Regions from separate parts of the Homo sapiens genome. Here regions 2 and 3 are each linked to region 1. The links come from fine-mapping of genetic effects on gene expression. A gene starts in region 1. Each other region holds a variant in brackets. All regions are shown on one strand. Distances are between the middles of the regions.

Region 1 (10,805 bases):
TGCTAGAGATACAAAGAGAAAATTTACTAAAGAATTTACTTCTGCCTTTCACACCAAAAGAGAGAAATCTCTGGTTTCCAACACTTCCTCAAGACAGTGAACCCTTTCCAATACACAGAAGACTTTTACTTTAGTAAATTCTGGATTGACCTTTTTTTTTTTTTTCCTACTTGCTGGATCGCAAGGTGGAAGAATTGTGGAGCTTGCCCATCAAATTCTGCCACTGCACTCCAGCCTGGGTGACAGAGGAGACTTGGTCTCAAAAATAAAAATAAATAATAAATGTATACATTTTGATGGGTTTGGACATATGCACACACTTATGGTGCCACCACCACAATCGAGGTACTAAATATATTCATTCATGTCATGCCCTTTTCAAAGTACAAGGACCAGGTCAGGAGCAGTGGTGGCTCATGCCTGTAATCCCAGCACTTTGGGAGGCCAAGGCAGGAAGATTGCTTGAGGCCAGGAGTTCAAAACCAGCCTAGGCAAAATAGCAAGAGCCTGTCTCCATAAAAAAGAAAAGAAAAAGAAAAAAATGAAAAATTAGCTGGGCATGGTGGCATACACCTGTAATCTCACCTACTCAGGAGGTCGAGGTGAGCAGATCACTTGAGGCTAGGAGTTCAAGACCAGCTGGATAACATAGCAAGACCCTATGTCTACAAAAATGTTTTAAATTAGCCAGATGTGGTGGTGTGCACCTGTAGTCCTAGCTCTTCAGGAGGCTGAGGCAGAAGGATCACTTGAGCCCAGAAATTCGAGGCTACAGTGAGCCATGATGGAGCCACTGCACTCCAGCCTGAGCAGCAGAGTGAGAGATCCTGTCTCAAAAATATATATATTATTACTGTTAGTAAAATTAGAAATTAGATGGTAAATTAAACTTTCTAACATTAATTTTTATAGGTTATAAATTTTTATAGGTATGCATCCATCTCTGTCTAGATATTAAATCTGATTTATTCGGCTGGGTCCACTGGCTCACGCCTGTAATCCCAGCACTTTGGGAGGCCGACGCAGGTGGATCACCTGAGGTCAGAAGTTCAAGACCAACCTGAGCAACATGGTAAAACCCTGCCTCTTTTTAAAAAATTAAAAAAAAAAAAAGACTACATAATATGACTATGTGTTAGTAGATGAGTGATTAAATAAATTTTGGTACAGCAATTAATTGGAATATCATACCACTTATTTAAGACTTGGCTAAACACTCATATCTACCTGGAAAAAAGTCCATGGTCTGTTAATTTTTTAAAGTAATCTCCAGAATAATTAGTATATAGTATTATAGTATTTTTAAAAACTATTTTAAAACTCTCAATATAGGAATATATATTGTGATAAAATGCTTTTTCTAGTATTTATGTAGTAAATTATATTATTACATGTCTTAAGTTTAATTTTTTGTAGAGCAAGGACTATAGTAATGGTCACCTCAAAGTCAAATTAGAGAAGGGAAAGGGAGTTTTATCTTATTTTTTACTTTAATTTTTTTTTTTGAGATGGAGTTTCACTCTTGTTGCCCAGTCTGGAGTGCAATGGCGTGATCTCGGCTCACTGCAACCTCTGCCTCCCAGGTTCAAGCAATTCTCCTGCCTGAGCCTCCCGAGTAGCTGAGATTACAGGCACCACACCCGGCTAATTTGTTTTGTAATTTTAGTAGAGACAGGGTTTCATCATGTTGGCCAGGCTGGTTTCGAGCTCCTGACCTCAAGTGATCCACCCACCTCTGCCTCCCAAAGTGCTGTGATTACAGGCATGAGCCACCACACCCGGGAAAGGGAGTTTTGAATTGTGTTTTACATACTCCATATTTGTGAGAATGAGCATATATTATTTTATTAATTTTAAAAATCTAATTAAAAACTTTTAAATAAAACAACATTAAGAACTATGAAATGTAGGGGCCAACCCCACAGGGTCAGTGGGTTTTTCTCCCTGTGTGTGGAGACAAGAGATTGTAGAAATAAAGACAAAGAGATAAAAGAAAAGACAGCTGGGACTGGGGGACCACTACCACCAAGATGCAGAGACTGGTAGAGGCCCTGAATGCCAGGCTGTGCTGATATTTATTGGATATAAGAAAAAGGAGCAGGGTAAGGAGTGTGAGCCATCTCCAATGATAGGTAAGGTCACGTGGGTCACGTGTCCACTGGACAGGGGGCCCTTCCCTGCCTGGCAGCCGAGGCAGAGAGAGAGAGGGAGAGAGAGAGACAGTTTACGCCATTATTTCTGCATATCGGAGACTTTTAGTACTTTCACTAATTTTGCCACTGCTATCTAGAAGGCAGAGCCAGGTGTACAGGATGGAACATGAAAGAGGACCAGGAGTGTGACCACTGAAGCACAGCATCACAGGGAGACCGTTAGGCCTCCAGATAACTGCAGGCGAGCCTGATTGATGTCAGGCCCTCCACAAGAGGTGGAGGAGTAGAGTCTTCTCTAAACTCCCCTGGGGAAAGGGAGACTCCCTTGCCCCGTCTGCTAAGTAGCGGGTGTTCTTCCTTGATACTGACACTACCGCTAGACCAAGGTCCGCTTGGCAACAGGCGTCTTCCCAGCCGCTGGCGTTACCGCTAGACCAAGGAGGCCTCTAGTGGCCCTGTCCGGGTATAACAGAAGGCTCGCACTCGTCTTCTGGTCACTTCTTACTATGTCCCCTCAGCTCCTATCTCTGTATGGCCTGGTTTTTCCTAGGTTATGATTGTAGAGTTAGGATTATTATAATATTGGAATAAAGAGTAATTGCTACAAACTAATGATTAATGCTATTCACATATAATCATATCTATGATCTGTATCTAGTATAACTATTCTTATTTTATATATTTTATTATACTGGAACAGCTCATGCCCTCGGTCTCTTGCCTCGGCACCTGGATGGCTTGTTGCCCACAATGAAATATGAAAAATTTAGCACACAGATCACCATATGTTTCCTCATCTATAAATAGTGATAGATAGTAACACCTTCCTTATAGGTCTCTGTGAAAATATTTAGGGATAATGTATGTAAAACTGTTTATTACCAGGCAGGTTGGAAAGTAATGTCCCATTCATTTGTCCACTAGGATGGCCATAGGGTTTTTGGTTTTTTTTCCTTTTAATTCTTGAATTCCAGAGTCTTCAAATACATTCCATTGTTGTAAAGTGAATCATATTCACATTTTTTCCCTAGAGTTTAGCGATTCCTTTTGCATACAAATTCAGGCTGTATGTGTTCACACATAGATCTCAAATAACATCTTAATTTTCACAACGAAAAGCTCCCTTCCTCACCCTGTAGCCTGGCTCCTAGAAGCAACTTTTTTTTTTTTCTGATAGTAATTACATATTTGTAAGTTAGGTATTTATACTGCTTTTTCATTTATCAGCTTTAAACTATATTGAATTACTTTCTTCTCCGAAACAATTAGCACATAACTCTTACGTACTGTAAAACTAATTTTCCTCACCAAACATAATCATTTAAGGAATCTGGATAAATCAAAATTCAATGTTTATCATTTTATGACATCAATATTTACCATTTGTAGCATCTAAACCTTAGCCAGACATGTAACAAGTAGTATGTCATTAATAATTTTTTCTCATTTTTTCTTTTGATCTCTTAAATTTTAAAATTTCCTTTTTTATTTCTTCCTATGAATCCAACACCTATTTTCTCCACCAGAAATGTAGTTCTCTTTTCAGTAGATCCAGATGTGCACTAGACAATTAATCAGCTTTGGCTTTCACTTGGAGACATCCCTCCCTAGTCCTCCCTCCCCTCGTCCCCCTCTGGATGGGAGAAATATGCATACATGATCCCATTTTTGAAAGAAATTAGGAAGCTCAAAATCACACAAAAAGGCTGGGTGTGGTGTGGCTCACACCTGTAATCTCAGCACTTTGGGAGGCCGAAGTGGGGTATGACTTGAGGCCATGAGTTCTAGACCATCCTGGGCAACACAGACCTCCTCTCTACAAACAAATACAAAAATAGTCAGGCTTGGTAGTGTGGGAGGCCCGGGTGGAAGGATGGCTTGAGCTCAGGAGGTCGAGGCTGCAGTGAGCTATGATTGCACCACTGCACTCCAGCCTGGGCCACAGAGTGAGACCCTGTCTCAAAACAAACAAACGAAAAGCCACACACACACACACACACACACACGCCCTAAATGTGTGGCTATATCATTTTAACAGGCGGTGAATGTGGAGAAATGACTGAAGAAAACTTTAAAGAGTTCATTTTGCATCCTGCTACCTGAACAGTTTTAAAATCCACAAAAAGCCCTACACCCAAAAACTGACCTCCACCAAGTCTTGTCCTCTCAGCCTACTAGCTCAACCCCATTCCATGCCCCACCACTGCCTTATCTTGTCCACATACTCGCCCACCAAACCTGGTATTAACCCACAGCAAGATCCGCCCATCAAACCTAATGCCCGCCCACAACCTCGCCCCGGAACTTAGTCTCTGTCCTGACAGCCCCGCCCCCATGCCTGGTACCGCCCACGGTCCCGCCCCAGAACTTCTCCCCACCCCCGGAGCTGATCTCCACCCACACTCAGCCCTGCCTCCAGGCCTGGTACCGCCCACAGCCCCGCTCCAGAGTTGGTCCCCGCCCCCGGAACTGGTCCCCGTCAACACTCAGGCCCGCCTCCAGGCCTGGTACCGCCCACAGCCCCGCTCAAGAGCTAGTTCCGCCCCCAACCCTGCCACAGACCCGCGCCAGGACGACCCTGCCTCCGCGGCTGTCCCTAGCCAGGGCCCAACCTGGTTCTATTAATAACTAAGCAAACTAGAACACCTCAGCCGGAGGCTGGGGTGCGCGGCTGCTGCACCTGCAGCCTGAACCCGGGGGTCCTGACACGCCGCATTTTGGGCTGGGACCAGCTGGAGCCGGAAGCGGAGGTGCAGTGTGGCTAGCCGGAGACCGGAAGCGGAAGCGCGCTTGTGTCTTGTGAGAAGAGCCGCGCTTGCAGCGTCTGGGAGAATCTTTCGGTCTCCGCGAGAGGTGCTTCATTCCGTGAGTCCGAGTCCAGAGAGGGGCCCCAGCCGCGGGCCTGCGTCCCTCCCGGGAGCCGGGTTTCCGCCCCTGAGGCCTCGGGCTGTGCGCTCAGTTAAGCCCGAAGCTGCTGTTTCCTCCGGTGTCCGGGCCCCGCGCCCCTGTCATCCTCACTCTGTCGTCCTCACCCTGTCGCCCTCACCCGGGGCGATTCTGCGCCCCAGGGGACTTTTGGCTATAGTTGGAGACGGTTTGGGATGTCACAAAATGGAGGGTAGGAGGGACTGTGCTACTACTGTAATCTAGAGGGTGGAGGCCAGGGATGCTAGCAGCTCAGCATCCTGCAGCGCGTAAAGCAGCCGCCGCCAGCAAAGACTCATCCAGCCCCAAATGTCATTAGTGCCCAGGTTGGGAAACCCTGCTGGAGGGCATTAAAATCTCTGCAGTCCTGAATACACTGTAGAAATTATTTAGAATTCAGCCGAGTCCACTTATAAGGCCTAAAGTGACGAATTTAAAGCATCTGGAGTCACCATACAATCTCCAGCCAAATGAGTTAAGCAAGTCAGATGAAAACAGCTTTAAGCTTCTTGTCCCATTTTAGGGACCAGATGGCTGGATAGGAATCTGGTGAATTCAGGCACAGCCAGTAGCCTGGGTTCTTATTCTTTAAATCAATTTTTTTTAAGTGAATGGGGTGGTCTTTCTATGCAACAACTGTATTAGTCTCAGTAAATACATTTTACTATACGTACATATTACTCCCTACAAAAGGCCTCATAAGCGATTTTTGTGCCCTTTTTATTTAGACGAAAAAAGTATAATTCAAGCTCAGATTTGTGTTGAAACCAGCCTCAAGTTTCACCTATCCTCACTGATCCGTGGACTTCTGTATGATCAGGTAGGTACCGTGTAGAACCTGCAAGTTGCAAGACTCCACTGTGTAGAAAACCTGTGAATGGATTTTTCCTGTGTTCAGGTTGTAAACACAAGGACTCACTAACAGTGAGGGTATTTTTTTTTTTTTTTTTGAGACAGAGTCTCACTCCGTTGCCCAGCCTGGAGTGCAGTGGTGCGATCTCAGCTCATTGCAACATCTGCCTCCCAGGTTCAAGCAGTTCTCCTGCCTCAGCCTCCCAAGTAGCTGGAATGACAAGGGTGCACCACCACGCCCAGCTAATTTTTGTATTTTTAGTAAAGATGGGGTGTTGCCATGTTGGCCAGGCTGGTCTCGAACTCCTGACTTCAGGTGATCCACCCACCTCGGCCTCCTAAAGTGCTGGGATTACAGGTGTGAGCCACGAGTGAGGGTATCTTAAAAATTATTTGTTTGATGCCTTATATTCAAGAGAAGGATACTAAGGGGTGTGTGATAATGTGTGTCAAAATAAGTCAGTAAATACAGCTATATGCAAATCAGTACACAAAACATGTAAACACTATTTAAAAGTTTTTTTTTCAACCTTCCAAGACATCTCAATTTTTCTTTTATTTTTTTCTTTTCCTAACAGGCCTGCCAGCCTGTAGACTTATGCTGTATAATAAGGTAGCTGCTGGTCCATGCGGTTGTTTTAATTTAAATGTAGACCAATTAAGATTCCATAAAATTTTAAATTCAGCTTCTCAGTCGCACTAACCACATTTCAAGTGCTTGACAGCGACATGTGGTTAATGCCCCTATTGAACAGCAAAGATTAAGATCATTTCCATCATCCCAGAAAGCCCTGCTGGGCGGCATTGTTCTAGTCTCTTCCCATCTGTCCATTGCAATGAAGCCAGAACGGCTATTGTAAAAGATAATTTGTGGCCAGGAGCAGTGGCTCAAGCCTGTCTGTAATCCCAGAACTTTGGGAGGCCGAGGTAGGTGGATCACCTGAGGTCAGGAGTTCAAGACCAGCCTGGCCAACAGGGTGAAACCCCGTCTGTACTAAAAATATATAAATTAGCTGGGTGTGGTGACTCTCTTGAGCCTGGGAGGCGGAGACTGCAGTGAGCCAAGATGGCACCGCTGCACTTCAGCCTGGGCAACAGAGCAAGACTGCATCTCAAAAAAAAAAAAAAAAAAAAAAAAAGCTGGGCATGGTGGCTCACGCCTGTAATCCCAGCACTTCGGGAGGCCAAGGCAGGCAGATCACGAGGTCAGGAGATCGAGACCATCCTGGCTAACGTGGTGAAACCCCGTCTGTACTAAAAATACAAAAAAAAAAAAAAAGATTACCCGGGCGTGGTGGCAGGCGCCTGTAGTCCCAGCTACTCGGGAGGCTGAGGCAAGGGAATGGCATAAACCCGGGAGGTGGAGCTTGCAGTGAGCCGAGATCATGCCAGTGCACTCCAGCCTGGGTGACAGAGCGAGACTCCGTCTCAAAAAAAAAAAAAAAAAAAAAAATACAGCCAGGCACAGTGGCTCACACCTGTAATCCCACCACTTTGGGAGGCTGAGGTGGGCAGATCGCCTGAGGTCAGGAGTTCGAGACCAGCCTGGCCAACATGGCAAAACACTGTCTCTACTAAAAATACAAAAATTAGCTGGGCATGGTGGTGGGCACCTATGATCCCAGCTACTCGGGAGGCTGAGGCAGACAGAATTGCTTGAACCCAGGAGGCGGAGGTTGCAGTGAGCCGAGATCTCACCATTGTACTCCAGCCTGGGTGACAGAGCAAGACTGTCTCAAAATAAATACATAAAGATAAATTTGCTTTAGTCACTCGCCTGCCTGAAAAGCCTTTGCTGGCTCTCCACTGCCTCTCATGTTCAAACTCCTCACCACTCTTTATAATACCTTTCAAAATACAACCTTTCCCGTGCACTCTGGCCCCTTATTTGTCCACATGCTCCAAACTGTGAACTTGGCTTCCTAAGCAGCTTGCTTTCCTGCCTCTGCACGTGCACTTTCCACTGAGCAAGACCCTACCTCGACTCTCAAGACTCAATTCAAATGTTCTTAGTGTTTTTCCTTCCAAGGCTTCCCAGTCCCCTTCTTCCCAGATCCTGGGTTGGATGCCATGTGCCCCTCTGCCATATCACATATCACTCTGAAATGCAGCAGCAGGTCTGTGTGTGTGTCCTGCTCCCAGAAAGCCAGTTCTTAGATGACAGGGATCTTCCTCCCCTCCATCTCCAGCACCCAGCTGGGGGCAGGTATCAATAAAACGTGAATGAGGGGTCAACGTCGGGACCCTAGGGCTGCAGAAGGGATTTGAGAGGAATAACTGGGTGAGGAAATGCTATGCCTGGTTTGGACTTGGGAGGGAAGAGGGGGCGACCCACCAGGGGCTCACCTGTGCAGAGTTCTCTTCTCTACCGTTTGTGCAACACAGCTGCTGGAAGAGCCCACTCACAAACAAGTATAAATACATGGAACTGTAGAGAAATAATACAGATATTTGTTTTTTTGGTTTTTTTTGTTTTTTTTTTTTTGAGATGGAGTCTTACTCTCACCCAGGCTAGAGTGCAGTGGCATGATCTGGTCTCACTGCAACCTCTGCCTCCTGGGTTCAAGCGATTCTCCTGCCTCATCCTCCCAAGTAGCTGGGATTACAGGCACCCACCACCATGCCCAGCTAATTTTTTAAATATATTTTTAGTAGAGACAAGGTTTCACCAACTTGGCCAGGCTGTTCTTGAACTGCTGACCTCAGGTGATCCGCCCACCTCGGCCTCCCAAAGTGCTGGGATTGCAGGCGTGAGCCACTGTGCCTGGCTATAATACAGATTTTCTTGCATGTCATAATACTAAAACTTTCAGGCTTTTACATATAAGTACAAATATATAAACTTTTCACATGTATATGTGAATTTTGGGGGTTCTGTTAACACCACAGAGACCAGATGTCAGAGACACTTGGCAGCTATATTAACTGGAGGGTGGGGGCTGTGAGGCTGCAGGCAGGAATGGGAAAGAGCCTCCCATCTCTGCTTGGCTCCAAGTACCAGCGAACAACTGGCCTGTGGGGAATGGCTCTCCATTCAGTCCTCTCCCAATCCTTCTCTCCCCGGAGATTGGGGGTATGGGGGTCACCCAGGATAAATTCCCTGGGCAAGAGATCTAGAAGGAAGCCAGGGCCTGAATGCTACATCTCAATACAAATTCCTAGAGAGACTGAGTGGCCCTGCCTTCCATGAATAGCCAGCACCGTCCACCCTCTACAGCTCTGTTTTGTCTACCTGGCCCAAACTCTTACAAGTCTCTAACTGCAGACAGCGCCTGCCCCCGCCCCCACCAACCCCTCCCACACACACCCTTGACCACTTTTTTTTTTTTTTTCCAAATGGAGTGTTGCTCTGTTGCCCAGGCTGGAGTGCAATGGTGCAATCCCGGCTCACTACAAGCTCTGCCTCCCAGGTTCACGCCATTCTCCTGCCTCAGCCTCCCAAATAGCTGGGATTCCAGGTGTGTGCCATCACGCCCAGCTAATTTTTTATTTTTATTTTTTTAGTAGAGATGGGGTTTCACCATGTTAGCCAGGATCGTCTCGATCTCCTGACCTCGTGATCCGCCCGCCTCGGCCTCCCAAAGTGCTGGGATTATAGACAGGAGCCACCGCGCCTGGCCAGCCGCTTTCATCTTTGTGTGTATATACACACACACACACACACACACACACAGCCCTTCTTTTCTCATAAAAAAGGAAACATTCCATATATGCTATTTGGTACTTTTTTTTCCCCTTAAATTTACTGACGATAATAACCTCTATTGATATCTAGAGATCTTCTCTCTTTTTTTTTTAATGGGTGCACTGTAATGCCACAGTGAATAATCTTACACAACTTTTACATTTGTGTATCTTACAGATCGATTCTTAGAAGTTGCAGGAACCTAGGGTCTCTGATAGAAAATGGCTGGAGCTCTGCTGGGCTGGCATGAGAGTGGGGAGTGGGGAGGAGGAAATCAACTGAAATGAGGGGTAGTGACATCTGAGCTGGGTGAGGTGGAAACCAGGAGGAGGGGGTGGTCAAGGCAGATCACAGGCTGGAGAGGGGGTGACCGAGGCAGGGCACGGGCTGGAGGGGGGTGACCGAGGCAGGGCACGGACTGGAGGGGGGGTGTGACCGAGGCAGGGCACGGGCTGGAGAGGGGGTGACCGAGGCAGGGCACGGGCAGGAGGGGGGGTGACCGAGGCAGGGCACGGGCAGGAGACGGGGTGACCGAGGCAGGGCACGGGCAGGAGACGGGGTGACCGACGCAGGGCACGGGCTGGAGGGGGTGACCGAGGCAGAGTGTTCCCCCCATTTCTTCCAGGGTGCTGTCCTGAGAGCGCTGCGGGATAAAGGAGGAGCGTCCTGCTTCCCGGCTGCCCTGTTGCTGTCGGAGTCACAGGATGGCGGCTGTCGTCCTGCCCCCAACTGCCGGTGAGTCATGGGGTCCTGGCAGTTCTCAGAGTCCAGGCTTGAAAGGTCCTGACCCACAGCATGGGATGGGAGGGGGTTGGGCAGAGCAGGTGAGGCAGGAGTGGAGCCCCAGGGGCCCAGAGGTCCTCCGTGTCTGATCGGGCGGCTCTTGGGACTTGGGACTTAGGCATTTGGGTGTCTGTGGATGTCACCTGTGTGGTGAATGTGCTGGAGCTTTTGAATTCTCCCTTCAGTTCTTTCTGTGAACCTGATAAAAACACAGTGACGCCCTCGGAACTTCAGTTTCCTCATCTGTGAAGTGGGAATAATCCCTTCCCCAAGTGCAGTCAGACCTTAAGCCCTGTTTCCTGGCGTGGATGCGGCAGGGCCATGCTCTGGTTTCCTTGGATTGCTGTGGGTTGGTGTTTGCTTGGAGTAGAGGTGGATGCTTTGTGGGTGACTGTGTATGCATGGGG
Region 2 (10,805 bases), 980 kb before region 1:
ATGAGGTCAGGAGATCAAGACCATCCTGGTTAACACAGTGAAACCCCATCTCTACTAAAAAATACAAAAAATTAGCTGGGTGTACTGGTGGGCACCTGTAGTCCCAGCTACTCTGGAGGCTGAGGCAGGAGAATGGCGTGAACCTGGAGGCGGAGCTTGCAGTGAGCTGAGATCATGCCACTGCACTCCAGCACTCTAGCCTAGGCGACAGAGTGAGACTCCGTCTCAAAAACAAAACAAAATAAAACAAAAACAAAAACAAAAATTATCTGGGTGTGGTGGTGCACACCTGTAATCCCAGCTACTAGGGAGGCTACTAGGGAGGCTGAGGCAGGAGAATCATTTGAACCAAGGAGGCAGAGGTTGCAGTGAGCTGAGATCGTTCCATTGCATTCCAGCCTGGGCAACAGAGTAAGACCCTGTCTCAAAAAAAAAAAAAAAAAAAATGGTAGACAGGGGAAATGGACCAGATGTTGAATCTAGTTTGGTTATAGTCATTGCTGGGGATTAATATAGTAAGAGGAGGGTCCTTCTCTCCTGAATTGATGTCTATCAGGGGTTGGAAAGTTTTCTTTTTTTCTTTGAGACAGAGCCTTTCTCTGTCACACAGGCTGGAGTGCAGTGGCGCGATCACAGCTCACTTCATCCTCTAACTCCTGGGCTCAAGCCATCCTCCCACCACAGCCTCCCGTGTAGCTAGGACCACAGGCGTGCACCACCACTCTCAGCTAGTTTTTGTATTTTTTGTAGAGATGAGGTTTTGCCATGTTGCCCAGACTGGTCTTGAACTCCAGGGCTCATGGGATCCGCCCACTTTGGCCTCCCAAAGTGTTGGGATTACAGGTGTTAGCCACTGGAAAACTTTCTATAAGGGCCAGAAAATACACATTTTTGGCTTTGCAGGTCTCTGTTGAGACTACTCAACTCTGCCTCTGGACAGTAGGAGGAGTGAGTGTGGCCGCTGCACTCAGCGCTTTTCAGAGCCATGCTAGAGCCTGGGGCAAAGAGGAAAAAGAAGCAGCAGTGCTGATCCTGTCTTTATGTAAAATTTCAACATTTTGCTCATCATGGAATTTTTTTCCCATTATTTTTTTGAGACAGGGTCTCATTCTGTTGCCCAGGCTGCAGTGGCACAAACACGGCTCGCTGCAGCCTCAACCTCCCTGGGCTCAGGGAGTACGGGCACGTGCCACTACCCCCAGCTAATTTTTGTATTGTTTGTAGAGACGGGGTTTCACCCTGTTGTCCAGGCTGGTCTTGAACTCCTGGCCTCAAGTGATCCACCCGCCTTGGCTTCCTAGAGTGCTAGAATTACAGGCATGAGCCACTGTGCCCGGCCTTCATCATGAAATTTTTTGGCATTTATTTTGATTTTTTAAAATACTGCATTAAAACATTGTGTATCTTGATGACTGTGGATTTTTGTAGGCACTGCCTTAAATTTTGCATCCCAGGCGAGGGCCTCACTGCCTCATGCTAGTTCTGACCCTGGTGCTGGTGCTGTTCCAATAAATCTTTATTTATGGACACTGAAATTTAATTTCATATCATTTTCATGTGTCACAAAATATTTTGTCTTGTTTCCAATCATTTAAAAACGCAAAAAATATTCTCAACTCGTGGAAACTAAAAACAAAAATAAAAACCCACAGTAGTGTGCTAGATGTAGTCTGCTGACCCGTTTTTTTTTTTTTTAATTTTTATTCATTTATTTATTTATTCTGAGGCCGGGTCTTGCTCTGTCATCCAGGCTGGAGTGCAGTGGTGCAAACATGGCTCACTGCAGCCTCCACTTCCAGAGCTCAAGTGATCCTCCTGCTCAGCTTCCCCAGAAGCTGAGACCACAGGTATGTGCCACCATGCCCGGGTAATTTTTTAATTTTTTGTACAGATGGGGTCTCACCATCTTGCCCAGGCTGTGACCCCTATCTTGGATGGCCTTTGGGGGAACATGTCTTACTCATAATTATAGGCAGCGGAAAATGCCTGCTAGCGAGTAGGCACTCAAACGTGTCTGAATAATTTAGTCCCATTTTCTCCATTCTTAAATTACTGTTTAGGTTGCTTTACATTCTCTTCCCAGCCCCAGATCTCCAAATACAGGAGATGAGCACACGTGTCCAGGGCACCCCAGACCTCTTGGGCAGGGAGAATTCTCGGCAGAGAAGACCGGATATGGGAGTGTGGTGTGGGAATCGTCTGTGAGTGCTAAAGAACCGGTCCTCCACCTGCCCCAAGCTTTCCATTAGGCTCAAAAGCAGAGTTAGCCCAGTTAAGCGCATGGAAACTAAATGAGTTCGCTGTGCATTGTTCAGCTATACATGACCACAGGCAAGATAAATATTTAGGGTCTTTATTAAAGCTGTGATCCTCTGCTTTAGCAGGACAGCGTAGGGACTTACTAGAGGCAAACCATAAAAAGCATATGCCTCCTAGTAAAGTAATGCTGGGAAATATGACGAGTCAATTACTCTTTATCATTAATTGTGGTAAAATGTGCATAATGTACAATTTACCATTTTAACCATGTTTAATATACAGTTCAGTAGCATTAAGCACACTCACACTGTTGTGCAACCATCACCTCCATCCATCTCCAGAACATTCTCATCTTCCCAAATTGAAACTTTGTCCCCATGAAACACTCACTCCCTACCCCCTCCCCAGCCCCTGGCACCCACCATTCTACTTTCTGTCGCTATGGATCTGATGACTCTAGGGACCTCCTAGGGGTGGAATCACACTGGATTTGTCCTTTTTTTTCTTTCTTTCTTTCTTTTTTTTGAGACAGAATCTCGCTCTTGTTGCCCAGGCAGGAGTGCAGTGGTGCGATCTTGGCTCTCTGCAACCTCTGCCTCCTGGGTTCAAGTGATTCTCCTGCTGCAGCCTCCCAAGTAGCTGGGATTACAGGTGCCTGCCACCACGCCCGGCTAATTTTATATTTTTAGTAGAGGCTGGGTTTCACCATGTTGGCCAGGCTGGTCTCAAACTCCTGACCTCAGGTGATCCACCACCCACCTTGGCCTCCCAGAGTGCTGGGATTAGAGGTGTGAGCCACTGCGCCCGGCTGGATTTGTCCTTTTGTGTCTGATTTCTTTCACTGAGCATGATGTCCTTAAGCATAATGCATAATGTCCATGTTGCAGCCTGTGTCAGAATTTCCTTCCTTTTTCAAGGCTGAATAGTATTCCATTGTATAGATGGATCACATTTTATTTATCCATTCATTTGTTGGTGGACACTTGAGTTGCTGCCACATTTTAGCTATTGTAAATCATGCTGCTATGAACATGAGTGTACAAATCCCTGTCTGAGTGTACAAATACTGTTTTCCAAAGCAGCTACACTATTTTGCACACCTACCAACAGTTCACATGGGTTCAGTTCCAATTTTTCCATATTCTTATCAACATTTTTCTGTCTTTCTTCTTTTGGGTAACAGTCATCGTAATGGGTGTGAAGTGGTATCTTATTAGGGTTTTGATTTGCATTTCTGCAATGATAACTGGTATGAAGCACCTTTCCAACTGCTTATTGGCCATCTGAATATCTTCTTTGAAGAAAGAGAAATATCTACTCAAGTCCTCTGCCCATTAAAAAATTTTTTTGCTGAGTTACAGAAATTCTTTATCTATTTTGAATATTAACCTCTTATTAGAAATGATTTGGAAACATTTTCTTCCATTCCTTGGGTTGTCTTTTTACTCTGTTGCTACTGTTCTTTGATGCACAAAAGTTTTGAACGCTGATGGCCTAATCCTTCTGTTTTTCCTTTTGTCGTGAGTGCTTTTGATGTCCTATCCAAGAAATCATTGCCAGATCCAGTGTCATAAAGATGTCTCCCTATGTTTTCTGCTAAGAATTTTACAGTTTTAGCTCTTATGTTTAGGTCTTTGATCCATTTTGAGTTAATTTTTGTGTATGTTATAAAATAAAAGTCCTGGCTGGGCACAGTGGCTCACGCCTGTAATCCCAGCACTTTGGGAGGGTGAGGTGGGAGGATTGCCTGAGGCCAGGAGTTCAAGACCAGCCTGGGCAACATAGTGAGACCTCGTCTCTATAAAAAATTTAAAAATTAGCCTGGCATGGTGGCATATGCCTGTGGTCCCAGCTAGTTGGGAGGCAGAAGCAGGAGGATCTCTTGAGCCCAGGAGGCCGAGGCTGCAGTGAGCCATGATTGTACCACTGCACTCCAGCCTGGGTGATAGAACAAGATCCTGTCTCAAAAAAAAAAAAAAAAAAAAAAAGGCAGGGGAGATCCAATTTCATTCTTTTGAATGTGGAAACCCAGTTTTCCCAGCATCATTTATTGGAAAGACTGTATTTACCCCATCGAATGATCTTGGCACCCTTGCAGGAGTAAAATACGGCCATGAGTCGCTTCCTGACAGGGATACGTTCTCAGCAATGCAACCTCAGGCAATTTCATCATTGTGCGAATATCACAGAGTGATACTTACAGAAACCTAGACGCTACAACCTACGTAGCACACCTGGGCTGTATGGTATAACCTATTGCTCCCAGGCTACAAACCTGTCTAGCATGTGACTGCAGTGAACAGTGCAGGCAATTGTAACACAGTGGTAAGTATTTGTATCTCCAAACATGGCTAAGCATAGAAAAGGTACAGGAAAAATACAGCATTATAATCTTATGGGATCACTTGTATATGTGGTCTGCTGTTGACGGAAATGTTATGCATGGCATGACTGCATTATAAGCAAATAATTAAAGTTAAGTAATAACACACAAGAATCTAATCTTGCCGGAAAGGGCACTGTAAAAGTGAATTGCAAGAGAAGCTCACAGGAATTAGATGACTTCTGTGTCTCCCCTTTGACAGTAATGGATGCATCCACGCACACGGCTCATTCCTGTTTTCAGTGATGCGCTTCCTTACTATTATTTGCAAAGGGAATTTGTCTGTTCTGACCACACAACTCTACAGAGATACAAACATCACATGGGCACCTCTGCCTTTTCTGTTTACTACTAACGTAGATTGTCATGTAATTTTTGCCCTTCCATGCCTGTTCTTCTGAGGAGAAATTCCCAGTGTTGAGCAGATTTTGAAAGAGATCCAGACTGATGAAAGATTAAAAACCACTGGGCTACAGCAGTATGTCTTTTTTTTTTTAATCTTTTAAAACTTAAATTCACAAATTTGAGGACTCCAATTCAGACGAGCTTCGTTGTATAAACCAGGCAGATCTGTGGTCTTTAGAAGAAAGTGACAGAATCAGTTCACTTCCTGGGTGGGGACTGAGCACAGGCAGATGGTCGCAGCGGGTCAGAAGCCACAAGCTGCAGAGACAGACTCATGATAGACAGGGCGACAGGCATAACCTTCACAGGGGCGAAGCGAGACGCACACCCGTCTCCAGCAGGGAGCCACAGTCCACAGGTGGCTACTCCTCCCTCCCACTGCCCTGTATTTAGGAATTCAAACAGCCTGGGAAGGGACTGTGCTGATAATTGGCTCTGCTTTCAAAGAACACTTAGGAGATAATTAACCCACAGTCCACCAAGCCCAGGAATTGAGGATCGAGGATCAGAGGAAGCCCAGGAGG[G/A]AGATGCCTGCCAGAGGCGAGTAAAGGGACTTAGAGAGAAGTGCAGTTTTTTCTAGCATCCACCCATCCAACCCAAGGAAGCCCATCTGATTTACCACATCTAGCCAGTGACCTTGATCAGTTCCACAGCCAGGCATTAAGGCGAGTCCCCACTAACTTTCTCACCTCAGAGAAGCCCGATTCCAATTCTAGCCCCTCCCTGGACTCTGTCAGTAATTCCTAGCAATGCCTTCACTCTAAAAAATCCAGCTACAACAAAAGATTCAGATGCTGCAGAATTTATTTTGATTTGGAGGTTTCAGCTCCAAATCAAAGGGCTGATATCATGGAAATAGCTTTTTTGACAGCTAAACAGAAATTATTTTCCTTGATTAGCCATGGCACATTCGCCCTTCTTAGGTGGACAGCGTGTTTTGATACGAAGGTGATGGGTTACAGGTGCTGGGTTTCTCCACATGGGCAGTTTCTCCCCAGGAGTCTCACTCCTTACATCATCATCTAGAGCAGTAATTAATTTCAGAAACCACTCCTGGCTGCCATAAGCTGCACACCCACTTCCAGAACTGGCTTAACCCGCCAGGAAGCCACAGTCCTCAAGGGACAGTCACCCAGAGCTGCATGTTGGTGAGTCAGAGACGAGAACAAAGAGGAAGCAATGACCCCTGAACACAGAGCCCTTCCCAGCCCAGAGTGCTGCTCTAAGCCTAACCCAGGCTGGCCAGGGCCTGAAAGACAAAGAAGAATGCCACAGAGAAGGGCCAGGGCACTACAGCTTTTTTTTTTTTTTTTTTTTTTTTTGAGACGGAGTTTCACTTTTGTTGCCCAGGCTGGACAGCAGTGGCGTGATCTCGGCTCACTGCAACCTCCGCCTCCCGCGATTCTCCTGCCTCAGCCTCCTGAGTGGCTAGTATTACAGGCATGTGCCACCATGCCCCGCTAATTCTGTATTTTTAGTAGAGATGGGGTTTCTCCCTGTTGGTCAGACTGGTCTCGAACTCTCGACCTCAGGTGATCCACCCGCCTCAGCCTCCCAAAGTGCTGGGATTCCAGGCTTGAGTCACCATGCCAGCCCAGCATTTTTTTTTAAAGGCACAGTTCTCATAGGTATAAGAAGGCAACGAAATTCATCCTGCAAGATGGATGTAGCCAAAGACTCTTCTTTAATTACAACAAACTGGAGAAGATAACAAAGTAAATATTATTCCTCTCTCTCTTAGAGAAAGCAAAAATATGTTAAACACCATTGAAGAGCCTAAGGGGTTTTATAAACCTCAAAATCAGCATCACATTCATATACACATGAGTACTAGTCACATATAGCCAAGTAATGTGCGTTAGACCAGGGGGTGGCAAGCTTTTTTTGTAAAATGTGGAATAGTAAATATTTTAGGTTTTGCAGGTCAAGCGCTCGCTGTCAAGATGACTCAACCCCATCCATTGTAGGGTGAAATGACTGTGGCTGTGTGCCAATAAAACTTTATTTATGGTTCCAGTTTTAGTATATTTGCTGCTGAAGCAAGCACAATTTATGGACACTGAAATGTGAATTTCAGATAATTTTGTATGTCCTAAAATATTCTTCTTTTGATTTTTCCAACTACTTAAAAATGTAGGAAAAAAGCATTCTTAGTTCATGGGCTGTACAAAAACAGGCAGTGAGTTGGATTTAGCCCATGGGCTAGTTTGCCCACTCTGTATTAGACTCAGATGTTTGGACTCATGTCTTTAAAACAGAGCCTAAAATAACTCCAAATAAATAAAAGGGCAGGTATCAAATAGCCCATGTAATGACAAATAACCACGCTAGAAATCTGCGTCCAGCAGGTCAGGGACACTCTGGGGGTGAAGACCAACACTCCTGTCCTGTCTCCATCTCAGTGGCGGAGGATGTGGGGTTTTGGGCAGTCTCTGAAAAGGGAGTGTGCACGGGCAGGAGCTGGAGCAATGTCACAGGGAAGGGGGAGGCCAGCCCTCATGTCCTCTGGATTCTGACCCTGTGCTATGGTTGGAATGTTGTGTCCCCCCAAAACTCACATGTTGAAACCTAACCCCCAATATGACGGCATCTGGAGGTGGGGCCTTTGGGAGATGATTAGGTCATGAGCATGGCACCCACAGGAATGGGATTAGGGTCCTTGCAAAAGAGGCCCCAGAGACCTCCCCTGCCCCTTCCATCACGTGAGGACACAGCTAGAAGGCAGAAGCCGAACCAGAAAGCAGGCCCTCCCCAGACACTGAATCTGCCAGTGCCTTGATCTTGGACTTCCCAGCCTCCAGAGCTGACTGCAACACATTCCTGTTGTTTAGAAGCCAGCCAGTCTCTAATATTTTTGTTGTAGCATCTGAATGAACTGTCACCCTCCCTTCCCTCCACCACCCTGTGTAGCTCTTACATGTGCTGGGGACCTTCATGATTCAGGGTCTTTGGGCATTTCACAGAGGAACAGAAACTTGTGGATTAGAGAAAATTATTATATGAGATAACATCTTTGGATTGTTTGTATAAGATAACATCTTTGGATTGTTTGTTTGTTTGTTTTGAGACAGGTTCTCGCTTTTGTCACTCAGGCTGGAGTACAGTGGCATGTACATCGCTCACTGCAGCCTCAACGTCCCAGGCTCAAGAGGTCCTCCCACCTCACCCTCTGGAGTAGTTGAGACCAGAGGCCCACACCACCACACCTGGCTATTTTTGCATTTTGAATTTTTCATAGAGACAGGGTTTCACCATGTTGCCCAGGCTGGTCTTGAACTACTGAGCTCAAGTGATCTTCCTGCATCAGCCTCCCAAAGTGCTGAGATTACAAGCATGAGCCACCATGCCAGCCCAGATAACACCTTTGAATACAAATTTCTCAGCCGGGTGAGGTTGCAGTGAGCCAAGATCACGCCATTGCACTACAGCCTGGGTGACATAGTGAGACTCTGTCTCAAAAAAAAAAAAAAAAAAGAATACACATTTCTCCAAAGAAGAGCTATAGACAGATGAAAGCACATGAAAAGAGGCTCAGCATCATCAGTCATTACAGAAACACAAATAAGAACCACCATGAAACACCACTTCACACCTACGAGGCTGGTTATACTAAAAACAGGGAAAAATAAAAGTGTTGGTGAGGATGTGGAGAAACTGGAGCCCTCACTCCCTGCCGGTGGGACTGTGAAAGGACAATTTGGCAGTTAACTTGCAGTTACCATACGACTCAGCAACTCCACTCCTAGGTATATTCCCTGAAGAAATGAAGCTATATGTCCAGGCAAAAGCTTGTCCACAAATATTCATAGCAGCACTATTCGTAATAGTCAAAAGGTAGAAACAACCCAAATGCCCATCAAGGGATGAATGCATAAACAGATGTGGTCCACCCATGGAGTGGAATACTATTCAGCCATAAAAAAGAATGAAGCTCTGACACAGGCTACAATGTGGATGAACTGCAAAACAATATTACCCAACCTTCCAGGGCTTAAATATATATTTATATACACACAAGTGAAAGAAGTCAGTCACGAAAAAGGTCACATATTGTATGATTCTATTTACAGGAAATATTCAGAATAGGAAAACCCACATAGACAAGAAGCAGACTTGGTGTTTGCCAGGGGCTGGGAGTAGGGGACTGTGATCGACTTCTAATAGGTATGGAGTTTCTTTTCACGGTGATGGAAATGTTCTGGAATTAGAGAGTGATGATGGCTTCACAACACTGTGAAAATCCTAAAATCCACCAAATGAAAACCATTTTAAAGTGGTTAAAATGGTAAATTTTGGGCTGGGTGTGGTGGCGCATGCCTGTAAACCCAGCACTTTGGGAGGCTGAGGCTGGGGATTGCTTGAATCCCGGAGTTTGAGACCAGCCTGGGCAACATAGTGAGACCTTGTCTCTACAAAAAATTAGCCAGGCATGGTGGCGTGCACCTATAGTCCCAGCCCAGAAGGTGGAGGCTGCAATAAGCCATGATCGCACCACCCCACTGCAGCCTGGGCGACAGAGCAAGACCCTATCTTCAAAAAAAAAAAAAAGGTGAATTGTATGTGAATTTTATCACAATTGAAAAAAGAAGATGACGCTGAGTGCTGGCAAATGCCAGCCACGAAGAGAAACAATGATATAGAGACTAAAAGCATTCCTGCATTCCTCACCTCAGGAGAAGTAAAATGCAATATTCTCATAATTATGAGAAAATTAGGCACGAGAACGTACAAAGTACAATTCGAACATTTTCAGAAATAAACTTCAGTAACAAACAACAATATCTGTTGGACACGATCCCTAACAGACTGTTTGTGAAAATCTCGAGTGATGGGAGAGAAGTAGGTGTGGGGAAATCTGTTTCAGGAACTCTGAGTCTAAGCCGCAAAACGTGTTTACATGAGACCCATCAACAGAATAAGCCGAGGGACTGAATGAGGAATGAACTGCGGGAGGTAGGCATTTTACAATCAGGAATCTGAAATGAGACTATGTCCCAGTTTGGGAGTCAGAGAATTGTAGACTTTCTGGGCCAAGCCCTCAGTGAACATTAACCCTGGAGAATAAAGGAGCAGGGAGTTTCTAGAAGATTCTACATCCGGGAGTGGGGGGAGGAAAACTGTGGAGGTTGGTGTCTCAGAAATCTTAAAGGATGTTAAAAAAGAAAACCATGATTCACTGAATTTAAAATAGGAGAAAAGCTCAGATTAAGAATGAATAACTTTATCGAGGATTAGGTCACAGGAATTCTGGTTTTAAATTGTTTACGTAGAGTTAAAGAGAAAGAATTTGTACCATAAGAAGAAGCCAACTATAACAGCAAGGAAGACATTCAAGAACAGGATCTAGTGGCTGCACAACTGAGCTCCCTCCTCGGGCTGGAGAGAGCAGGGGCTCAAGTCCCTAAACCCGGGCCATGGCAGCAGGGGGTCAATGACCCAAGAAAGCAGCTTGGGACGGAGGGTGGCCCCGCAGGCTGCATGCTGGGCTGCTGGAAGGAAGGTCTTCCGCTGAGAAGGCAGAAGAACGAGTGCTCTGCTGGAGAATAAAGGTAGCAGAGTTTACAGCCACGCGTCCAGAGGGAATTCAGAGGGGCGGGGCAGGCCGTTGCTAGGCTCGAGTCCGCGCAGGAGTCAAGGGCGACAAGCATGAGCTTGTGGCTGCGCAAACCAGCCCAGCAGCCAGGCCTCCCCAAGAGGCACACGCGAGCATGGGCGCAGCTCACGGTGACAGAATGAGGCTGAGTCAGTCACACGTGGA
Region 3 (9,309 bases), 23 kb after region 1:
ATAATTGTAATATGAAAATATATTAACAAAAAGAGATCAAACATTTCGCTAGCCCATCCTATAGACCAGGCGCTCTTCAAAGTGCCTTATAAATATTAACTGCGTCCTCACTATAAGCTTGCAAACTGTGCTATTACTGTCTCCAACTTACAGATGGGAAAACTGGCATGGAAATGTCTAGGTTGCTTGCCTGAGTTCACCAGCTAGTAAGTGGTAGAGCACAGATTGGAATCCAGACAGGTGATTCTCATAACCACTAGCCTGTTCATTGAGTACATTCCATGTGGCTAAGCACTGTTTGAGATGCCATGTCTAGAGCAGTGAATGAAACTCAAGTTTTGCCATTGAGGCACTTACATCCTAACGGGGAGGGGTGAATTATAGAAAAATCAACAACATGGCCGGGCGCTGTGACTCACGCCTGTAATTCCAATACTTTGGGAGGCTGGGGCAGATCATGAGGTCAGGAGTTTGAGACCGGCCTGACCAACATGGTGAAACGCCATCTCTACTAAAAATACAAAAAAATTAGCTGGGTGTGGTGGTGCGCTCAGCTAATCAGGAGGCTGAGGCAGGAGAATCGCTTCATCCTGGGAGGTGGAGGTTGCAATGAGCCGAGATCGCGCCACTGCACTCCAGCCTGGGCAACAGAGCAAGACTCCATCGAAAAAGAAAAATCAACAATATTCATGTTGTGCAGAAAAATAAAGCATTGTGAGAGAGTTACGGAGGGCTGGGGACTTTCCATTTTATGTAGCATAGGAAGGAAAAGGCCCCCAGTTAAGGTGCATTTGAGGAGAGACTATTGAGTAGGAACTTGTGGCAAGAGGACTGTTGGCATGCAAAGACCCACAGCACAGAGGCCAGTATGACTCAGGTAAAATAGGGATTCAGGGATTAGAGGGTAATCGGAGATGCAGATCCTGATCTTGTGGGGTTTTATAGGTCATTGTTAGGGCTTTTCCTTACATGTTCAGGAAGTTGGAATATCAAGAGTCCCAGCAGGAAACAGTTGACACACACGTCAACTGGGATGATTCAAGCGCAGTTTATATCAAGGGGCTCCTCACAGAATTGTGAACAGGATGTAGGGAAACCACAAAAGGTACTTGAAATGGAACATCGGTCTTCTCCCCACCTCAGATACGGGTGCTTCTGGTTCTCCAGCCTTCAGACTCAGACTCGCAACTTACACCATTGGCCCTCCTGGTTCTCAAGCCTTTGGACTTCACACTGGGGTTTACACTGTTGGCTCCCCTGTTTTCAGGTCTTTGAGCTTGGACTGGAGCAAGACTACCAGCTTTCTTGGTTCTCCAGCTTCCAAACAAATGGCAGATCGTAGGACACCCATAAGCCTGAAGGGACAAAGGAAGAGAACTGCAAGTTGTTGTTCAAGCGAGGAGAGGGCTGCATTCCAGGAGCTGACAGGAGGTCAGTGAGGGGCAACATCCAGCCTCGAGTTCTGCAAGAAATAGTAAGGGTCGGCCAGGCACAGTGGCTCACACCTATAATTCTGGCACTTTGGGAGGCCGAGGTGGGTGGATCACTTGAGATCAGGAGTTCAAGACCAGCCTGGCCAACATGATGAAACCCATTCTCTACTGAAAATACAAAAACTAGCCGGGTGTGGTGGCATGCGCCTGTAGTCCCAGCTATTCAGGAGGCTGAGGCAGGAGAATTGCTTGAACCCGGTAGGTGGAGGTTGCAATGAGCCAAGATCATGCCATTGCACTCCAGCCTGGGTGACAGAGTGAAACTCCATCCCCACCCCCCCACCACCACCAAAAAAGAGAAAGAAATAGCCAGGGCCAGCCCTCCTTGTCCTTCATTCTTCTTATATCATATTTGGGTTCCCCATTTGCCAAACTCAACCAAAAGCCAATAAGGTAAGGGAGTTCGTTGATAGCATTCATAGTAACTAATCATCCCAAGTACAGCAGGGTAGAGGAGGTGAATCTGCTGGGGCGAATGGAAGATACCCAGTATTGGTCACTCCTTTTGCTTCTCAGAATCTACTCATGCCCATCACCTGGATGGAAAGTTCATATCCAAGCCCAGGAATTCTATCAGTTGCTCAGCTACCCTGGGGTGGTGTCCATGCACTGATACTCCCCGATGAAGCCTAACATAGTTGCCAACACCAGTGTTTCCTGTATAGGATGAGGAACAGAGCCATTGGGGAGGAAAGCAAAAGAAATAATTAACCTGGCCAGGCGCAGTGGCTTACCCCTGTAATCCCAGCACTTTGGGAGGCCGAGGTCGGTGGATCACGAGGTCAGGAGTTTGAGACCAGCCTGGCCAACATGGTGAAACCCCGTCTCTACTAAAAATACAAAATTAGCCAGGCACAGTGGTGGGCGCCTGTAATCCCAGCTACTCAGGAGGCTGAGGCAGGAGAATCTCTTGAACCCGGGAGGCGGAGATTGCAGTGAGCCGAGATCATGCCACTGCACTCTAGCCTGGGTGACAGAGTAAGACTTCATCTAAAAAAAAAGAAAAAAGAGAAGTAACCTAAAGGACTTGGTTCCCAGAGGGAAACACTTCCACCAAGAGACACAGTAAGAGTCTCATCGGATGTTAAACTGTGACTTCTATGAGACCAGCACACAAGGAAAGAAGTCACCATACTGACTTAGGTAATTAATGCTATCATCCATAGAATCTGAGGCTGCTGTTACATGATGAGTGCAGGGAGGAAAACATTTGGCATTCACGGAATCCATTGGGATGTCTCTTACTATTCTTTCCCCAATTTTAAAGATAAAAAAATTTTGGCCAGGCGTGGTGGGTCACGCTTGTAATCCCAGCACTTTGGGAGGCCGAGGTGGGCACATCACAAGGTCAGGAGATCGAGACCAGCCTGGCTAACATGGTGAAACCCTGTCTCTACAAAAAATACAAAAAAATTAACTGGGCGCGTTGGCAGGCGCCTGTAGTCCCAGCTACTTGGGAGGCTGACGCAGGAGAATGGCGTGAACCCAGGAGGCGGAGCTTGCAGTGAGCCGAGATCGCGCCACTGCACTCCAGCCTGGGCAACAGAGCGAGACTCTGTCTCCAAAAAAGAAAAAGATAAAAAAATTTCACCAGCTATGTCCTGAGAAGGGCATGGTGAAGACCCCGTAGGCATAAGGATCTGGAGCAGCTCTCCAGGTAAGCCACCTAGACCAGCAGGATCTAGGTGAGAAGGAAATCTAGAATTTTCACCCTAGTCAAGGGTAAAGGGAATCTGGAAGGTGCAAGTAAAGGAGTGTGATAAGCATCAATTGCATCTCTGAGACTTGTTCAGGTGGAAAGGGCTGTCTACAGTTTGTCCCACTGATCTTCCTCTTGTCAGTTTCTCCAGGCAACGGGACCAACCTGGATCCTGAGGGCACTTACTTTAAGAATCCTGGGGCCGGGCACAGTGGCTCACGCCTGTAATCCCAACACTTTGGGAGGCAGAGGCGGGCAGATCACTTGAGGTTAGGAGTTCGAGACCAGCTTAGCCAACATGGTGAAACCTCATTTCTACTAAAAATACAAAAAATAGCTGAGTATGGTGGCACATGCCTATAGTCCCAGCTACTCCAGAGGCTGAGGCAGGAGAATCACTTGAACTCAGGAGGCAGAGGTTGCAGTGAGCCAAGATGGTACCACTGCACTCCAGCCTGGGCAACAGAGGGAGACTCTGTCTCAAAAACAAAACAAACAAAATGAATGCAGGGCATCTGAGTGGCACACATGGTGGACCACAGTAGGTACAGTGGTGGCACTACCCAGCAAAAGAGCTCTTCACCCAATGTGCTAGAAGCCAATACTATGACATCAGATTTTTGAGAAAAGGAAAGGTTTGTATTGCAAGTTAACAAGGAGACAGGAGTCCAGCTCAAATTTGTCTTATGCTGACTTTAAGGCAATAATTTTCTTAGAAAAGGTGTAGGGCGTGGATTCTGGGATTAGCAGGCGATTGGTGGGAGGAAAGGTCTGTTAAGTCCTCAGGCAGGTGCAATGATCTCTTCATGCCTCCCCATGGGTTCCATGTGCAAAGTCATACTAACTCAAGGGAGTTTGTATGAAACA[C/CGTG]GTGGAAATTTGCACTGTGACATCAGCAAGCTCATTCTGCACAAACTCCATTTGGCCATGTGGGTTCTCACAGATTTTAGGCAGTTTTGTTACAAGTGGAGGCAGTTTCAGCGTTTTAGCAAGTTATTTCTTTTTTTACCTGCCATCCTGCAAACTCAATGAGAGGTGAAGCCAGCTGGACTTCCTGGGTCGAGTGGGGACTTGGAGAACTTTCCTGTTTTACAAGAGGATTGTAAAACACACCAATCAGCACTCTGTAGCTAGGATTGTAAACCGCACCAGTGAGCGCTCTGTAGCTAGCAAGAAGATTGTAAAATGCACCAATCAACAGTCTGTAAAACACACCAATCAGCAAGATCCTGAAAGCAGCCAATTGCAGGGAGGATTGAAAAAAGGGCACTCTGATAGGACAGAAACAGAACATGGGAGGGGTCAATAAGGGAATAAACGCTGGCCACTCCAGCCAGCAGCGGCAACCAGCTCGGGTCCCCTTCCAAGCTGTGGAAGCTTTGTTCTTTTGCTCTTCACAGTAATCCTTGCTACCGCTCACTCTTTGGGTCTGTGCCATCTTTAAGAGTGAAGGTCTGTGGCTTCTTTCTTGAAGTCAGCGAGACCACGAACCCACCAGAAGGAACCAGCTTCCAACACATCAAGAATTTCTGCTAGTCTTTGCTTTAACACTTTAGGCATGGTTTCAGTGGCATATTTCCCAGATTCTTCCTTTAAGACTAAGGCACTAAGGCCAGGCGTGGTGACTCACGCCTGTAATCCCAACACTTTGGGAGGCTGAGGCAGGTGGATCACGAGGTCAAGAGATCAAGACCATCCTGGCCAACATGGTGCAACCCCGTCTCTACTAAAACTACAAAAATTAGCTGGGCGTACCTGTAATCCCAGCACTTTGGGAGGCCAAGGCCGGCGGATCACGAGGTCAGGAGATAGAGACCATCCTGGCTAACACGGTGAAACCCCATCTCTACTAAAAATACAAAAAATTAGCCAGGCATGGTGGCGGGCACCTGTAGTCCCAGCTACTCGAGAGGCTGAGGCAGGAGAGTGGCGTGAACCTGGAAGGCGGAGCTTGCAGTGAGCCGAGATGGCGCCACTGCACTCCAGCCTGGGCGACAAAGACTCCATCTCAAAAAAAAAAAAAAAAATTAGCTGGGCGTGGTGGCGTGTGCCTGTAGTCCCAGCTACTCAGGAGGCTGAGGCTGGAGAATCGCTTGAACCTGGGAGGCGGAGGTTGCAGTGAGCCAAGATCTTGCCACTGCACGCCAGCCTGGTGACAAAGCAAGACTCCATCTAGAAAAAAGAAAAGACTAAGGCACTCCCCTAGCTGCTGGAGGTGTTGCCTGATGATGGTGATGCTGCTGTCCTCTCTGGGAACTCCCCAAGGCCCAGAGGAAAGTGCCCAACCCAAGATTATGCTCTCTCTCCAGGGGTTGCCTACTTCCAGTGACTGGTTGATGTAGGGGGTACAAAGGTCCAGTGCCTTTGTTTCAATGTAGGACACCCCTGAAGGGCAACCCCAGCACCAGAACTCCCTGTGGGATCGACGGCAGCCTCAGTTGACAAGTTACATGTCAGCCTCATCTGTCCCCTCCGCTTCTCGCATGCCTTTAAAGATGTTGTTCCCAGGAGTTTTATCCAATAAACAAAAAATTGCCAGCACAAAATCTGTTCCCAGAAAACCTGATCCGAGATAAGATCACTCTATCAGGGTAAAGAATCCATTCAGGGCCGGTCTCAGGAGATCGAGACCATCCTGGCTAACACAGTGAAACCCTGTCTGTACTAAAAATACAAAAAATTAGCCGGGCGTGGTGGCGGGCGCCTGTAGTCCCAGCTACTCAGGAGGCTGAGGCAGGAGAATGGCGTGAACCCGGGAGGCAGAGCTTTCAGTGAGCCGAGATCGCGCCGCTGCACTCCAGCCTGGGCGACAGAGTGAGACTCCATCCCAAAAAAAAATAAAAATAAAAATCCATTCAGATAAGGGACTGGCAGAGAGAAAGCAGAATGTGGAATGGATGTGGAAGAATTAAATTCAGTCCTGAAGACCAGGTCCCAAAGCAGGAATAGAAGACAGCTATGCTTTGGGTTTGGGTTTTTTAAAAAATCTTTAATTTTTTCCGCTTTTTCCCTGGTTCCCCACCACCACCATCACCATTTTATATGAAGAGTCCTGGTTGTGGCCAAAGCTTAAGGTTTCTGATGGGAATACGACCAAATGACATTATCCCAACAGTAGCTTCCTTTGTATCTCTTTTTTTTTTTTTTTTTTTTTGAGATGGAGTCTCACTCTGTCACACAGGCTGGAGTGCAATGGTGCCATCTCTGCTCACTACAACCTCCGCCTCCTGGATTCAAGCGACTCTCCTGCTTCAGCCTCCCGAGTAGCTGGGACTACAGGCACACGCCAGCACACCCGGCTAATTTTTGTATTTTTAGTAGAGATGGGGTTTCACTATGTTGGCCAGGCTGGTCTTGAATTCTTGACCTTGTGATCCGCCCACCTCGGCCTCCCAAAGTGCTAGGATTACAGGCGGGAGCCACCGCGCCCGGCCCCCTTTGTATCTTATGTAGGGACATGAACTTAGCGCCAAGTGAAGGACAAGAATTGATATCCAAAATCCAATAGATTTTTCTTTTAAATACCTGAAAGTGAAACTGGCCCAATTTTCCCATATTGCTGATGTTTATGGTTTCCTTGAATAAACAAACAAATTGATCTTCCCAATCTTAAAACTTAAGAAAGTTACATTTATCTTATCTGAGTTCCTTTCTCAGGAAACCAACCATCAGGCCTCCCAGATAGTATCTAGGAGCTGAAACGCACCAGAATACTGCATTTGTACAGTGAGACATCAGACCCATCACCCATCATGATTGCCTAACTGACCACCTGCTTCCTGTTGACCAACTCCTCTTCCTTACCCTTCCCTAATTCCTGTATTCCCACACATGGTAACATTTCTTCCCTGCTATATAAACCTCAAATTTTAGTTGGTCAGGGAGATGGATTTGAGATTGTTCTCCCACCTCCTCAGCTGCAGCAGCTGATTAAAGCCTTCTTCCTTGGCAATACTCATTGTCTCAGCGATAGGCTTTCTGTGCAGTGGTGAGCAGCAGGACCTAGATTGAACCCCTGGTGTTTCAGCAACAACATAGTTCATCACCAGCAGAACTGCACTTCAAGAAACACTAAAGAAAGTTTTGGGCCAGACACGGTGGCTCACACCTGTAATCCCAGCATTTTGGGAGGCTGAGGCAGGTGGATCACCTGAGGTCAGGAGTTCGAGACAAGGCTGGCCAACATGGCAAAACCCCATCTCTGCTAAAACTACAAAAAAAAAAAAAAATTAGCTGGGCGTAGTGGCGGTCGCCTATAATCCCAGCTACTTGGGAGGCTGAGGCAGGAGAATTGCTTGAACCCAGGAGGTGGAGGTTGCAGTGAGCTGAGATCGCACCGTTGCTTTCCAGCCTGGGCGATGGAGCGAGACTCTGTCTCAAAAAAAAAAAAGAAGGAAGGAGGGAGGGAGGGAAGGAAGGAAGGAAGGAAGGAGAAGGAAAGAAAGAAGGAAAGTTTTGGGGCTGGAGGAAAATTATTCCATGTGGAAGCAATTCCAGAAATATATAAGGATAATCAGGAAAGATAAAATGTGAGCAAATACAAATAAATATTGACTGTATAAATCAAGCCTGTATAGTTTTAACACTTTTATACGTCTAAATCTTTTTTTTTTTTTCAGACGGAGTCTCACTCTGTTGCCCACACTCACCTCACTGCAACTTCCGCCTCCTGGGTTCAAGCAATTCTCTTGCCTCAGCCTCCAAGTAGCTGCAACTACAGGTGTGCACCACCACGCCCAGCTAATTTTTGTATTTTTAGTAGAGATGGGGTTTCGCCATGGTGACCAGGCTGGTCTCAAACTCCTGACCTCAAGTGATCCATCTGCCTTGGCCTCCCAAAAGTGTTAGGATTATAGGCGTGAGCCAACGTGCCCAGCCCTAATTTTTTTTTTTTTTCAAATAAAAAGAGTTTTAAATCACATTGAACTGGTCCCTTAAAACTAGAGATAATAGAAAGCATGGCAAGCCATTTCCCAGTCCCCCTAAGACTAGAGATTATGGAAGCCCCAGCAAGTGATTCTCACAATCTGCATACAGCAGTAGAGCTGACAGAAGCCCTAGCAGGTAACCACCAGTCACCCTCAAAACAAGAGGCAACAGGATGCCAGATCTCCACCCCTCAATCACTTACAAACACAAAAGATGGAGTCCAAACATGAAGACCTCCGTCATCGCGAAACTACTCCAGCAAGCACCCCTCAGTCACGTCCAAAACTATAACAGAAGTCCCTGAAATGACCCCTTCAGATGCCCCTCAACACTAAAGAATGGGGACTCCAAGCCCAATGGCCTACCCAGTCTATACCAACAGTACAGGCAAGCGGAGACCCAGAATATGACCCTCCCCAACTAGAGATAAGTGGAACCCCATCCAATAATCCCTCCATCCTCTCCCCAAACAATACACAGTAAGGCCTCTATCTGATAAATGCTCTTGACCCTTCAACACTAGAAAAAAATGGAAGCCCCAGGCACTGGCCCTCCAGTTACCTCCAACATCAGAGACAATGAAAGCTTCGCCAAGTGATTCCCCGTATCGCTCCTACATTAATGATGGAAACTCCAAAAACCAATCAACCCTCAATCCTCTACACACTCAAGAAAGGAACTCCAGGCTGGGTATGGTGGCTCACGCCTGTAATCCCAGCACTTTGGGAGGCCAAGGCGGGTGGATCACGAGATCAGGAGTTCGAGACCAGCCTGACCAATATGGTGAAACCGTCTCTACTAAAAATACAAAAATTAGCCGGGCGTGGTGACACGTGCCTGTAGTCCTAGCTACTCAGGAGACTGAGGCAGGAGAATCTCTTGAACCCGGGAGGCAGAGTTTGCAGTGAGCCAAGATCACACCACTGCGCTCAAGCCTGGGAGACAGAGCAAGATTCTGTCTCAAAAAAAAAAAAAAAAAAAAAAAGAACTCCAGCAAATGCCACCATTCTTACCCACTACCGCTGCAACATGCATCCCTTGTCTTCCCAAGACTATAAATAAGTATCCCCAGCAATGACACCCAAAACAAGCAATGGTCAGAATCTCAACAGGCAGCCCCCCAGATTCTACAACATAAGTGACAAACTCATACCCCAGAAAACTATCTCTCTTCCCATTATCCCAAAGTAA

Evidence for each region. PIP is the estimated chance that this variant, and not a neighbour inherited with it, causes the effect. A credible set is the group of variants that fine-mapping cannot tell apart.
Region 2: its variant is the best candidate, but not a certain one, in a credible set for the expression of ZNF557 in lung (GTEx, PIP 0.79).
Region 3: its variant is the best candidate, but not a certain one, in a credible set for the expression of ZNF557 in blood mononuclear cells (TOPMed, PIP 0.76).

Annotation. Positions count from the first base shown.
Region 1 is chr19:7,064,756-7,075,560 of GRCh38, forward strand. It overlaps ZNF557 (zinc finger protein 557), which reads left to right and starts at 4,948. Exons shown (of 8, transcript NM_024341.3): 1 at 4,948-5,018; 2 at 5,807-5,898; 3 at 10,241-10,350. The coding sequence starts at 10,320.
Region 2 is chr19:6,081,868-6,092,672 of GRCh38, forward strand. All of the region lies in intron 1 of RFX2 (regulatory factor X2), which reads right to left. Among named protein-coding and RNA genes, the nearest start is that of RFX2, 23 kb to the right of the region's middle. RefSeq lists enhancers at 4,913-5,414, 5,336-5,405, 5,415-5,914, 10,705-10,805. The variant G/A (reference allele first, on the strand shown) is at 5,572.
Region 3 is chr19:7,088,097-7,097,405 of GRCh38, forward strand. LOC124904625 (a long non-coding RNA gene) reads right to left here. Exons shown (of 3, transcript XR_007067110.1): 2 at 4,199-4,355; 3 at 1-1,355. Among named protein-coding and RNA genes, the nearest start is that of ZNF557, 23 kb to the left of the region's middle. The variant C/CGTG (reference allele first, on the strand shown) is at 4,060.